Linked DNA regions of Homo sapiens. The protein of the gene in region 1 purifies or fractionates together with the protein of each later gene. This does not show direct contact. Each region holds a gene or a part of one and is shown in the gene's direction. Other genes may lie near its edges.

Evidence for each region.
Region 2: the proteins of HNRNPH1 (region 1) and ILF2 fractionate together in Homo sapiens (co-fractionation; 3 studies listed by BioGRID and IntAct, with this or other methods). This does not show direct contact.
Region 3: the proteins of HNRNPH1 (region 1) and COPRS purify together in Homo sapiens (co-immunoprecipitation; 3 studies listed by BioGRID and IntAct, with this or other methods). This does not show direct contact.
Region 4: the proteins of HNRNPH1 (region 1) and HNRNPU purify together in Homo sapiens (affinity purification with mass spectrometry; 4 studies listed by BioGRID and IntAct, with this or other methods). This does not show direct contact.

What each region holds. Positions count from the first base shown.
Region 1 is NC_000005.10:179,617,175-179,620,671, reverse strand, and holds part of HNRNPH1 (heterogeneous nuclear ribonucleoprotein H), read left to right. Parts: intron 1-1,264; coding exon 1,265-1,403; intron 1,404-2,348; coding exon 2,349-2,527; intron 2,528-2,611; coding exon 2,612-2,683; intron 2,684-2,739; coding exon 2,740-2,873; intron 2,874-3,022; coding exon 3,023-3,158; intron 3,159-3,497. UniProt on the Homo sapiens protein: This protein is a component of the heterogeneous nuclear ribonucleoprotein (hnRNP) complexes which provide the substrate for the processing events that pre-mRNAs undergo before becoming functional, translatable mRNAs in the cytoplasm.
Region 2 is NC_000001.11:153,664,641-153,667,993, reverse strand, and holds part of ILF2 (interleukin enhancer-binding factor 2), read left to right. Parts: intron 1-336; coding exon 337-439; intron 440-2,265; coding exon 2,266-2,331; intron 2,332-2,657; coding exon 2,658-2,774; intron 2,775-3,353. UniProt on the Homo sapiens protein: Chromatin-interacting protein that forms a stable heterodimer with interleukin enhancer-binding factor 3/ILF3 and plays a role in several biological processes including transcription, innate immunity or cell growth.
Region 3 is NC_000017.11:31,853,808-31,856,244, reverse strand, and holds part of COPRS (coordinator of PRMT5 and differentiation stimulator), read left to right. Parts: intron 1-2,437. UniProt on the Homo sapiens protein: Histone-binding protein required for histone H4 methyltransferase activity of PRMT5.
Region 4 is NC_000001.11:244,854,544-244,858,043, reverse strand, and holds part of HNRNPU (heterogeneous nuclear ribonucleoprotein U), read left to right. Parts: coding exon 1-33; intron 34-326; coding exon 327-446; intron 447-1,187; coding exon 1,188-1,316; intron 1,317-1,418; coding exon 1,419-1,587; intron 1,588-1,885; coding exon 1,886-2,140; intron 2,141-2,435; coding exon 2,436-2,620; intron 2,621-2,999; coding exon 3,000-3,071; intron 3,072-3,500. UniProt on the Homo sapiens protein: DNA- and RNA-binding protein involved in several cellular processes such as nuclear chromatin organization, telomere-length regulation, transcription, mRNA alternative splicing and stability, Xist-mediated transcriptional silencing and mitotic cell progression.

The sequences.
Region 1 (3,497 bases):
GTTCAGAGTAGATCTTTCATTGAGGATTGCCCTCAACAGCTTAACTACTTTCCTCACATTGGTGTCCAGCTAAGTACCTCAAGTTAAAGGTAAGATCCCTTTACCAGCAGATCATCAGTGCGATGAATTAGGTTGTTGTAAATTATGGCAAGTGTCTGTGTTGCAAGAGACACGTATTTGGGTCATGTGACCAGAAGCATCTAATGGTCTAATTCTCTTTAATGCAAAAGTCGGTTTATGAAAGACTTGGTTTAACCTGTGTGGTATAAACTTACTGAAAATCAGATGTAGTGAGAGTAGTTTGAATGCTTGTAGTCTCAGTATCTGAAATAAGTGTTTTGAAATTGTTCCTGGGCCTAAAGTATTTGAATGTTTTTATGCTGAAGAGCTGATAAGATTGCATGTTTAACAATGTTAGATAAGATATCGTATATTTTAAGTATTAATATTTATGATGTGATACGCTGGAAGCAGGAAATCCTTTCATGGTTTAGTGTAGTATGTTAAAAATTGATATATGTATCGAGTCCTAATGTCAGAATTTTTAAAATCAAGTCTGTTTTGTTTTGACACTAAATTGGTGAGAATTGAATGCTGTCAACGTTAAATATGAACATAATTTCATATCTTCTAGGAAAGTGCTTTAAGTCCTTTTTGTAAGCTTGGGAATGTATCCACGGAAAGGATTTTTCATAGACGGAATTTCCAGAAGTGAATCATAACTACTGTTAGAGCATAAGCATGCATGATTGTGCTGTGTAGATCAGTTTTGTTGAAAGTTTAGATTGTTGTGTTTGTCAATTATAATTTAATGTTTCAGTTTTTATATGAAATGTTGTAAATGTATACCTTTTTAAAAACTTGAAGTTCCAATAACTTAAAGCATTGAAATATAAAATGAGGTAAAAGGTGTTTTGAATTTAGTAAAACTGTTATTTAATGCTTAAAACTTAATTGAATTGTATAATTCTCAACATTAAGTTGCATAGATATGTGTTCTTAAGTTGTTGAATTCTTAATGCATCCTGTGTTCAGCAAGTTTTTTTTAATATATACTGTACCATGGGTGTGTTAAGAATAGTTATACTTTATAATAATGGAACTTCATATTATTGCAATGCATATTTAAAGAGTACTTGTTGAAAGCATACCATTCACCTAAAGTTAAAAATTCTGGTTTATTTAAAGCTATAAGAAGAATCATTTCTGGGCTTGTGATGTTAATATTGCCCCCCTACTGGGGTTATTTGTCCTTGGGTTGAAGGGTTGGAAATCGTGCCAAATGGGATAACATTGCCGGTGGACTTCCAGGGGAGGAGTACGGGGGAGGCCTTCGTGCAGTTTGCTTCACAGGAAATAGCTGAAAAGGCTCTAAAGAAACACAAGGAAAGAATAGGGCACAGGTGGGGATGGATGGTTGGTTGGATATGTCACTTTTCTTATGGTAAACAATTAAATCCATATTCTCTCTGCTTAAAAGAAGAAATTAATGTTTTGTAGTCCTAGGTAATTGATGTTTTGCCATGATTTCCAAACTTGTGTCAGTCCCACGTTACACGCAAACTAAATTTTAGGTTTGAAATTTGTCCCTAGTTAATTGGTCTGCTTGACAATTTTGTGAGTCTTATTAACCCCAATCAATAGAGTTGAGAGACTATGGCTTTAAAAAATTAATGCAAACCTGGCTTTAGCTGTAATAACACCCACCTAGAATAAATTAATATTACCATAAGAAAATGTGATACTTTCTGATCTTGTTTTTAAAGTTGAAATGCAACAAACTTTTTCTTGCTGTATATAAATATTCTGCATAGTATTAATAAGCATAGCTTTCAAGAAATTGTCACAAAAGGTTTTATTCTCTTTGCTTGTGACTATTTTTCATTGAAGCATGCGCTTACCTATGCTGATTCTTACTAAAAGCATAGGCTGGGGTATTTATTGGCGAAAGGAAATGTGTAGTGTGGGCTGGACTGTTGGTGGAGGCTGGCTTTTTAGCCCACTTGCTATACATGCTGCCAATGGATTTAAGACTTGAAATGTTGAAAGTTGAGTGGAATTATTTCCCTCCTAAAACATTTATTTACAGTACTCCTCTCTACCCCTAAGGTTGGGCTCTGCCTCAGAGGAGTGAGTTTTTTTTTTTTTTCTATAAAGTTTACATTGTCTTACTATTTATTGAGTGAATTTCTGGTCATTGCCTATGCAAATATAAGAAATCTGGCTTTAAATATTAGTCAGTTTCATGGCTATGACTAGATTGTTTTCTTGTATAACTAAATACCTGTATAAAATGAACTAATGTTTTCTCTCCCCTCCCTACCCCTTCCTTATGAACAATGCTTTAGGTATATTGAAATCTTTAAGAGCAGTAGAGCTGAAGTTAGAACTCATTATGATCCACCACGAAAGCTTATGGCCATGCAGCGGCCAGGTCCTTATGACAGACCTGGGGCTGGTAGAGGGTATAACAGCATTGGCAGAGGAGCTGGCTTTGAGAGGATGAGGCGTGGTGCTTATGGTGGAGGTACGTGAGGATTCGTAAGGTTCGGCAAGTCGTCTGTTCCTTTGTCTAGGTGTTTTATTTGATTGATTGTACTTTGTCTTTCAGGCTATGGAGGCTATGATGATTACAATGGCTATAATGATGGCTATGGATTTGGGTCAGATAGATTTGGAAGAGGTAAGGTAAGAATTGAATTTCTCAGTTGAAGGATGCTTACACTCTTGTCCATCTAGACCTCAATTACTGTTTTTCAGGAATGTCTGATCACAGATACGGGGATGGTGGCTCTACTTTCCAGAGCACAACAGGACACTGTGTACACATGCGGGGATTACCTTACAGAGCTACTGAGAATGACATTTATAATGTAAGTGTGAGATGAACTCACAAGTCAATATTTCAGTATGGCAGTAAGTCAGCCTTATTCTATAAATGTGAGCACTATGTTAGAAATTTTAGGTTTTTTTTGTAACGTTAGAAAGTTGGTTGAATTCTTTGAAATGCCTTGTGTTGTAGTTTTTTTCACCGCTCAACCCTGTGAGAGTACACATTGAAATTGGTCCTGATGGCAGAGTAACTGGTGAAGCAGATGTCGAGTTCGCAACTCATGAAGATGCTGTGGCAGCTATGTCAAAAGACAAAGCAAATATGCGTAAGTGTGATTGAGCATTTGTGGGCTCTTAACAGGTGATTGTGTGACTAACATTTACAATAGAGAAATGGAAAAATAAGGATATATGAGAAGTTTCCTCTCCAGTAATAGATTAATTCTTGGGGGATGCGGGGGCAGTGTGTTGAAGGTTTGGGTTTTAAAAATTAGTATAACGGATTTGTGATATGCACATCTTGAAGTGTATATCCTTAATTGACAATACAGATGAATATGTAAAGGCTAGATTTTGGAGTTAAAGTAGATCACCTAAGAGAAGTAGCTAGAATTTCTTTGCCAAAGTATTTGAAGTTCACAGATCTGCTTGTTTAAAAACTTTAT
Region 2 (3,353 bases), on another chromosome or scaffold:
TTTTGATGATTTAGTTTTAGGAAAGGGCAGCTTTGGTAGTGTGGAAATTGCCTTGGCTCTTGACTTTTAATTTTCAGTTGTCTATTATCCAAAGCCAAGCCTAAAATGAGAAAGTACAGTGGAATTTCTTTGTAGTACTGATCTTGGGGACAAGACTTGTATCATTGTTATGCTAGCTGTGATGTATCAGGCTTTCATGTGGTGGTTTTGGGGGTGATTTCACCTCTGCTACTTCTTAATTTGGGTAACAGGTAGCTGTGTTGTAACAGTTCTGGGAGGACCTAGGCACCTTTTTTTCTTCTAAATTGTTTTTCCCCGAAATCCTTTTTCCAACAGCAAATTGAAGAAGTTCGACAGGTGGGATCCTATAAAAAGGGGACAATGACTACAGGACACAATGTGGCTGACCTGGTGGTGATACTCAAGATTCTGCCAACGTGTGAGTGTGCCTGTTTCTGGTCATGGGAACAGAACATAGCACTTGGATTAGGGGTTTAGGTATCTTTTTTTGTTTTGAGACAAATTCTCCCTCCGTTGGCCAGGCTGGAGTGCAGTGGTACCATTGTAGCTCACTGCAGCCTTGACCTCCACTACAGCAAGTGATCTTCCCGCCTTAGCCTCCCGAGTAGCTGGGACTACAGATGTGTGCTACCACACCCAGCTAATTTTTGTATTTTTTGTAGATACAGGGTTTCACCGTGTTGCTCGGGCTGGTCTCAAACTCCTGAGCTCAAGCAATCTGCCCACCTCAGCCTCCCAAAGTGCTGGGATTACAGGCGTGAGCCACTGTGCCCAGCCCTTACGGATCTTGAAAGCTCAAATTTCTTGTGAGAAAGGATGTTTGTAAGACAAATGTTTCTAGTTTTTGTTTTTGAGACGGATCTCACTCTGTTGCCCTGGCTGGAGTGTAATGGCGTGATCTCGGTTCACTGCAACCTCCACCTCCTGGGTTCTAGCTGTTTTCCTGCCTTGGCCTCCCAAGTAGCTGGGATTACAGGCAAGTGCCACCATGCCAGGCTAATTTTTCTATTTTTAGTAGAGACGGGGTTTCACCATGTTAGCTAGTCTGGTCTCAAACTCCTGACCTCAGGTGATCCGCCCGCCTTGGCCTCCCAAAGTGTTGGGATTACAGGCGTGAGCCACTGCACCCTGCCTGACAAATGTTTTTTAATGAGTGATAAGGGACAAACGCTGGAGTGTGTGTGTCTGAAAGAATGTATAGCAGGTTACTGTACGGCCATGTTTCTCAACTGGAGGTAATTTTGCCACCCAGGGGATATCTGGCAGTATCTGGCGGTACTTTTGATTGTTAAAACAAGGGGGTGCTACTGGCATCAAAAAAGGGTAGAAGCCAGGTGTGGTGGCTGTATTCCCAGCACTTTGGGAGGCTGAGGCAAGAGGATCACTTGACCCCAGGAGTTTGACCAGCCTGTATAACATAGAGAGATCCTGTACCTACAAAAAGAAAAAAATTAGCTGGGCATGGTGGTGCATGCTTTGGTCCCAGCTACTCAGAAGCCTGAGGTGGGGCCGGGTGCAGTGGCTCACGCCTGTAATCCCAACACTTAGGGAGGCCAAGGCCTGGAGTTCAAGACCAGCCTGGCCAACGTGGCAAAACCCAGTCTCTACCAAAAATATAAAAATTAGCCAGGCGTGGTGGTGGGCGTCTGTAATCCCCACTACTTGGGAGGCTGAGGCAGGAGAGTTGCTTGAACCTGGGAGGCAGAGGTTGGAGTTAGCAGAGATCGTGCCAGTGCACTTCAGCTTGGGTGACAGAGTGAGGCCCTGTCTCAAAAATAAGAAAAAAAGAAAAAAAAAGCAGCAGCCTGAGGTGAGAGGATTGCTTGAGCCCGGGAGGCTGAGGCTGCAGTGAGCTGTGATTGTGCCACTGCACTGCAGCCTGGGTGACAAGAGTGAGACCCTTTCTCAAAAAAAGAAAAAGGATAGAGGCCGTGGATGCTGTTAAACATCCTACATCCCCATCACCCCAAAGATTTGTCTAGCCCAAAATGTTATTAACTGCCACTGACCTGAAAAACCCTGCTGTAGAAAGAGGATATGAGTACAGGAGGGGTCCTGTTCCCTGAGTCTTCCAATTTTTCTGCCCAGGCCTTGGCTTTCTCTTATAAAAGTATATATTCTATTACTTACCCTTGCTTCAGCCTTGGATATGGGACAGAAATGAGAGTGCAAAGTAGCTTAGAGATACATAGAAAGTCTAGGCAAATAAATTATTATAACATTATGTCATTTTCTGTCAATTAGTGGAAGCTGTTGCTGCCCTGGGGAACAAAGTCGTGGAAAGCCTAAGAGCACAGGATCCTTCTGAAGGTTTGCATTTGTTGCTGATTCTGTATTTAGTAGCCATAGGAACCAGGTCTTGTAATTGTAAGTACACTTTCAACAAAATCAGATCAGACCAGATGGAAGAGTAAATGCAGAGTTTTATGTTGTGGGAGTTTTTGGCAGGGGCTTCAGGTGTTCAAGGTGTTCAAGGGAGATCTGTTTGATCTCCCTTCTAAAGCTCTGTATTCTAAATTCTCATTCTGGACTTTGTGCTGTTTTAAAAAATCCACCTGTTCCCCCCCACCCTGGATTTAACTTTGATCATCTAATGGAAATGTGAGTTATAGTTTTTGTTTATTCTGTTTTTTCAGTTTTAACCATGCTGACCAACGAAACTGGCTTTGAAATCAGTTCTTCTGATGCTACAGTGAAGATTCTCATTACAACAGTGCCACCCAATCTTCGAAAACTGGATCCAGAACTCCATTGTTAGTTCTTTTTTTTCCATTGCTGGAAAATTTAGGGGATATTCAAAACATGGTATTGTTGCTGTTTAGTTTACTTAGCTTGTTGCTATTCCACATGCAGCTTCCTGGGAATTGAAGAACTTAGGTTTATTCTGAACTTTGCTCTCTCCCTCTGTAATTTGGAAATAGTTTATCAGCTTGCTAGTGGAATTTTCAGATGGGGTGACCAAGAAAGCATTTGGAGGACTTAAAAAGGACTGAGAAAATATTTATGGAGGGGGATAGGCTTTTGAAGAAAACAGATCTTGCATGTTTCTAGTGATTTTTAGACAAGTGATTTGCTGATATGAGAAACACAGGGTGGCTTAAAGAATTGCAGAGTTGGTCGGGTGCGGTGGCTCACGCCTGTAATCCCAGCACTTTGGGAGGCTGAGGCAGGCAGATCACCTGAGGTCAGGAGTTGGAGACCATCCTGGCCAACATGATGAAACCCCGTCTCTACTAAAATAAAAAATTAGTGGGGCATGATGGCGGTTACCTGTAATCCCAGCTACTCAGGAGGCTGAGGCAGGAGAATTGCTCGAACCCGGGAGGCGGAGG
Region 3 (2,437 bases), on another chromosome or scaffold:
TCCTGCCTCAGCCTCCCGAGTAGCTGGAACTACAGGCACGCGCCACCACACCCAGCTAACTTTTGTATTTTTAGTAGCTATGGGGTTTTACTATGTTGGCCAGGCTGGTCTCGAACTCCTGATCTCAAGTGATCTGCCCACCTAGGCCTCCCAAAGTGCTGGGATTACTGTGAGCCCACGCTCCCAAAGTGCTGGGATTACAAAGGCATGAGCCACTGTGCCCAGCCCCCTGCCGTTTTTTTTTTTTTTTGAGAGGGAGTTTTGCTCTTGTTGCCCAGGCTGGAGTGCAATGGCACAATCTTGGCTCACTGCAACCTCTGCCTCCTGGATTCAAGCATTCTCCTACCTCAGCCTCCCAAGTAGCTGGATTACAGGCATATGCCACCATGCCCAGCTAATTTTTGTATTTTTAGTAGAGATGGGGTTTCACCATGTTAGCCAGGCTGGTCTCGAACTCCTGACCTCACCTGATCCATCTGCCTCAGCCTCTCAGAGTGCTGGGATTACAGGTGTGAGCTACCACGCTTGGCCCCTTTTTTTCTTTTTCTTTTTTTTTTTTGAGATGGAGTCTCACTCTGTCACCCAGGCTGGAGTGCAGTGTCGCAATCTTGGCTCACTGCAACCTCTGTCTCCCGGGTTCAAGTGATTCTCGTGCCTCAGCCTCCTGAGTAGCTGGGATTACAGGCGTGCACCATATCGCCTGGCTAATTTTTGTATTTATTTATTTATTTATTTATTTATTTTTTGAGACGGAGTCTCGCTCTGTCTCCCAGGCAGTGGCACTATCTCGGCTCACTGCAAACTCTGCCCCCTGGGTTCACACCATTCTCCTGCCTCAGCCTCCCGAGTAGCTGGGACCACAGGCACCCGCCACCACGCCTGGCTAATTTTTTGTGTTTTTAGTAGAGATAGGATTTTACCTTGTTAGGATGGTCTCGATCTCCTGACCTCGTGATCTGCCCTCCTTGGCCACCCAAAGTGCTGGGATTACAGGCGTGAGCCACTGCTCCCGGCCTAATTTTTGTATTTTTAGTGGAGAGGGGCTTTCACCATGTTGGCCAGGCTGGTCTCAAACTCCTGACCTCAGGTGATCCGCCCACCTCGGCCTCCCAAAGTGCTGGGATTACAGGCATGAGCCACCGTGCCTGGCCTTTTTTTTTCTTTTAACTCTCACAACAACCCTATCTTCATTTTACAGATGTGGAAGTTGAGGCACAGAACAGTTAAATAAAAACAATTTAAAAATTGTGGTAAAAGATGCATAACCTAAATTTACCATGTAACCATTTTAACGCATATAATTCAGTAGCCTTTTAGCACAATGGCAGTGTTGTGCAACCATCACCACTACCTAGTTCCAGAATCTTTTCATCACCCTAAAAGGAAACCCTGTGCTCACCAAGTAGTCATTCTCCATTCCTTCCTTCTCTGAGCTCTTGGCAACCACTAATTTGCTTTCTGTCTCTGTGGGTTTATCTGTTCTGGATAGGCAAATGTGAGTTGCCTGTAAAGGGAATCATAACAATATGTGGCCTTTTGTGTCTGGCTTCTTCCACTTAGCGTATTTTCAAGGTGCATCCATGCCGTAGCATGTATCAGCACTGCATTCCTTTTTATGGCTGAATAATTCCATCATATGCATATACCACATTTTGTTTTTCCATTCATCCATTGATGGACATTTGATGTTGTGTCTACCTTTTGGTGATTGTAAATAGTGCTGCTGTGAGTATCCTTGTTTTATTTGAACAGCTGTTTTCAGTTCTTTTGGGTATATGTTTAGGACTGGGATTGCTGGGTCATATGGTAATTCTATATTTATGTTATGGAACTAGTTAAGTAAATTTCAGCTCAATCACACTTTTTTTTTTTTTTTTTTTTTTTTTTTTGGAGACAGGGTCTCACTCTGTGCAATGGCACGATCTTGGCTCACTGCAGCCTCCACCTCCCAGGTTCAAGCGATCCTCCCACCTCAGCCTCTTGAGTAGCTGGGATTACAGGTGCATGCCACTGCACCCAGCTAAATTTTTTGAATTTTTTGTAGAGACAGGGTTTGCGACATTGTTCAGGCTGGCCTTGAACTCCTGAGCTCAAGCAGTCCACCCACCTTGGCCTCCCAAAGTGCTAGGTTTACAAGGGTGAGCTACCGTGCCCGGCCCAGTCCGATGTTTGGTAATTGACAAAACACGGATTTGAAATCAGACAGTCTGGCTTTAGACCCCTTGCTCTGAACTATCACTTTATTGCTTATCACTGTTACTGTTGTTCCAGTATTAAGAGCATGGCTGTTTTAGGCTGATTGCCTTCTCTCCTGGGACCTGGCATCACCAAAGCACTATGTGCTCGGAAATCCATTATCTTTCCCCAGTCTTTCCTCCGTTATTGTGAGGCCTTTTGAAAATGTACCTTCCGGCCTCCCTGATGTCAGAGGGAGGCA
Region 4 (3,500 bases), on another chromosome or scaffold:
CCAAAGGGGCCTGAAGAGAAGAAAGATTGTGAAGTAAGGGATTTTTTTTTTTTTAACTGTGGCATTTGAATATTGCTTGCCTGGCACAAAATGACATTTAGAAGAACTAGATGATTAGTCTGTTTCATTTACTTTGTGCTGTGCATATTGCTCTTAAGTAATTGTTTCCCCCTTATGTTGACTGTTAATCTTTCCATAAACAAATTTTTGTCCGTTAGTGTAAGGGCTATGAAAACTTAGATATTTAAATTGGCCTTAACAATATTTAAAGAATTATTAGGTGGTGTCTACTGACAGTGAAATGACATTTCTTTTCTTTTCACTAGGTTGTGATGATGATTGGCTTGCCAGGAGCTGGAAAAACTACCTGGGTTACTAAACATGCAGCAGAAAATCCAGGGAAATATAACATTCTTGGCACAAATACTATTATGGATAAGATGATGGTAAGTAAAATGTTTAGGGCCTGATCTCAGTGTTTAAAATAGACTGGGAGAGGCTGGGCATGGTGGTTCACGCCTGTAATCTCAGCATTTTGAGAGGCTGAGGTGGATGGATCACCTGAGGTCAGGAGTTTGAGACCCACCTGGCCAACATGGCGAAGCCCCGTTCCTACTAAAAATTTAAAAATTAGCTGGGTGTGGTAGTGGGTTCCTGTAATCCCAGCTGCTCGGGAGGTTGAGGCAGGGACAATTACTTGAACCTGGGAGGCAGAGGTTGCAGTGAGTTGAGATCGTGCCATTGTACTCCAGTCTGGGCGACAGAGCAACACTCCGTCTCAGAAAAAAAAAAAAAAGAAAAGAAAAATTATAGACCGGGAGGTATTCTAGGTAAACTTTTTGTCTTTGTCTCTATCCATTTTGTTAGTATCTTAAAGAGATGGGAGGAAAGGCAAGATTAAGTTGGTTCTTTCAACTCTGAGGGTAAACTGCCTTCCACTGGCTAGGCTTCTGTTTTTTTCCGTAGTGTTTTTGAGCTCTTAACATCTAGCAGCTAAAAAGAATTGAGTAAGTGTAAGGTCTTGTTACATAGTTTAAGTGACCCTGTTTTTGTAGCAATAATGGACAAAGGTAATATTTAAATTATAAAATGTTGCCTGCTTTACATATAGATATGAGTTGAATTTTAAAAAGCATAACTTATTAAAATTCACAAGTTCAAGGGGAAATTTTAACTTTTGAATATAGGTGGCAGGTTTTAAGAAGCAAATGGCAGATACTGGAAAACTGAACACACTGTTGCAGAGAGCCCCCCAGTGTCTTGGGAAATTTATTGAGATTGCTGCCCGAAAGAAGCGAAATTTTATTCTGGATCAGGTACGCTGTAGCTTTGAAATTGAAAAATATTAACTGATAATTTAGATAGATTGGTGTAGAATTAATGTTTAGGGTTGTAAACATAAATTTCTTTTTTTAAAGACAAATGTGTCTGCTGCTGCCCAGAGGAGAAAAATGTGCCTGTTTGCAGGCTTCCAGCGAAAAGCTGTTGTAGTTTGCCCAAAAGATGAAGACTATAAGCAAAGAACACAGAAGAAAGCAGAAGTAGAGGGGAAAGACCTACCAGAACATGCGGTCCTCAAAATGAAAGGCATGGAATTTTAATTCTGTTACTGTGTGAAATCTTCTTTTTAAAAGAATGTTTTTCCTACATATTCTGCTTGTGTAACTATGTTAAATCTATTAGGACTTAGGCCTCCTGAAAGTTAACATTTTTTCCAGCAATACTGCTTCAGGAATTAAAATTGCAGTTGTTACATATGCATATATGTTTGGTCTGTTTTTATTTTTAGGAAAATATGTTACTAAACCTCAAGAATTGTCAGCTTTAGGATTGTGAGGATTCGTGGTGGGTTTCTAAATTAATAATATGACTTTGTTTCCTGCAGGAAACTTTACCCTCCCAGAGGTAGCTGAGTGCTTTGATGAAATAACCTATGTTGAACTTCAGAAGGAAGAAGCCCAAAAACTCTTGGAGCAATATAAGGAAGAAAGCAAAAAGGCTCTTCCACCAGAAAAGAAACAGAACACTGGCTCAAAGAAAAGCAATAAAAATAAGAGTGGCAAGAACCAGTTTAACAGAGGTGGTGGCCATAGAGGACGTGGAGGATTCAATATGCGTGGTGGAAATTTCAGAGGAGGAGGCAAGTTAATTTTGAGTGTTCTGTATTTAGTTCAGGATCGAAACAAGTGATAATTTTATAGTTTGGATGTAGCTGAAGTTTCTTCCTCATTAATGGTATACTGTCACAGTAACTAAAGTATTCATGTGATTTGATATTAAATACACCTAGGTTATGTTAATGGTTAGAATTAAACATTTCTTTTGTCTTTAAACAATTATTTTTGGAGAAAAAGGAACAATCTAGAGGAATCCTAAGTCTTCTGTATAAGTAGGGTACAATATACAATGAAACTAAAACAGCTCTTGTCTTTTAGCCCCTGGGAATCGTGGCGGATATAATAGGAGGGGCAACATGCCACAGAGAGGTGGTGGCGGTGGAGGAAGTGGTGGAATCGGCTATCCATACCCTCGTGCCCCTGTTTTTCCTGGCCGTGGTAGTTACTCAAACAGAGGGAACTACAACAGAGGTGGAATGCCCAACAGAGGGAACTACAACCAGGTAATGATTCAAGATCCCTGGAAGCATGATTGATAACTGTAGCTTAGTCTGGAAAGGTGTGAGCTTTATGTTGGGGTGTCTTAGTAATCCGTAAGGAACATGATAGGCATTGACATAAGGAAAATTGAACTAGTAATGGTGAAATGAGTCTACTTACTTTTGAGTTTTTTCAGGTGTACTAAACAAGTCAGATGCATTTCTCATAATGAATAAAAAATTAAAACATAAGAAACCAGCAGAGGGTATCCAGAATTTGTGTATTGCTTGCTACCTAAGATTAGGGGCTAGCAACCTGTCCATTTCTGCTCCTCTCTCTCACCCCCACAAACCTAACAAGCAATTGGGCTCAGAGCTCTTAGAGAGTATTTCCTTTTTGTAGAACTTCAGAGGACGAGGAAACAATCGTGGCTACAAAAATCAATCTCAGGGCTACAACCAGTGGCAGCAGGGTGTAAGTAATTTCTTATGTGCTTTATGTACATTAATTGTATTTTGAGTTCCTAAGATTTATCAGTCTTGAAAAAGATCTTGTTCAGGGATTGAAGTGTTTATAAGTGTTAATAGGGTAAAGTGTGAATCGTCTTGCAGTAGTAGCCATAATCTACCTTTTGAAGGCAAAATAGGTTGAAGATTGCTATAAGTTAAATTTTTTTAATAAAGTAATATTATTTAATATATACAGTTCTTTTACTGCTAGCTTTAATTGTGTAAACTAACAAAGTCATGATGTTTCGTTTTGTAATGTGTATTGATAATTATGGGATATTAAAACTAAATCTGGTTTGGTAGAAATCAGAGGTATGACAGGTATAAATTTGTTTCCAGCAAATTACTCTGAATTAGATTCATTGTCATTTCCTAAAAACAGTTTGAGTGGCTT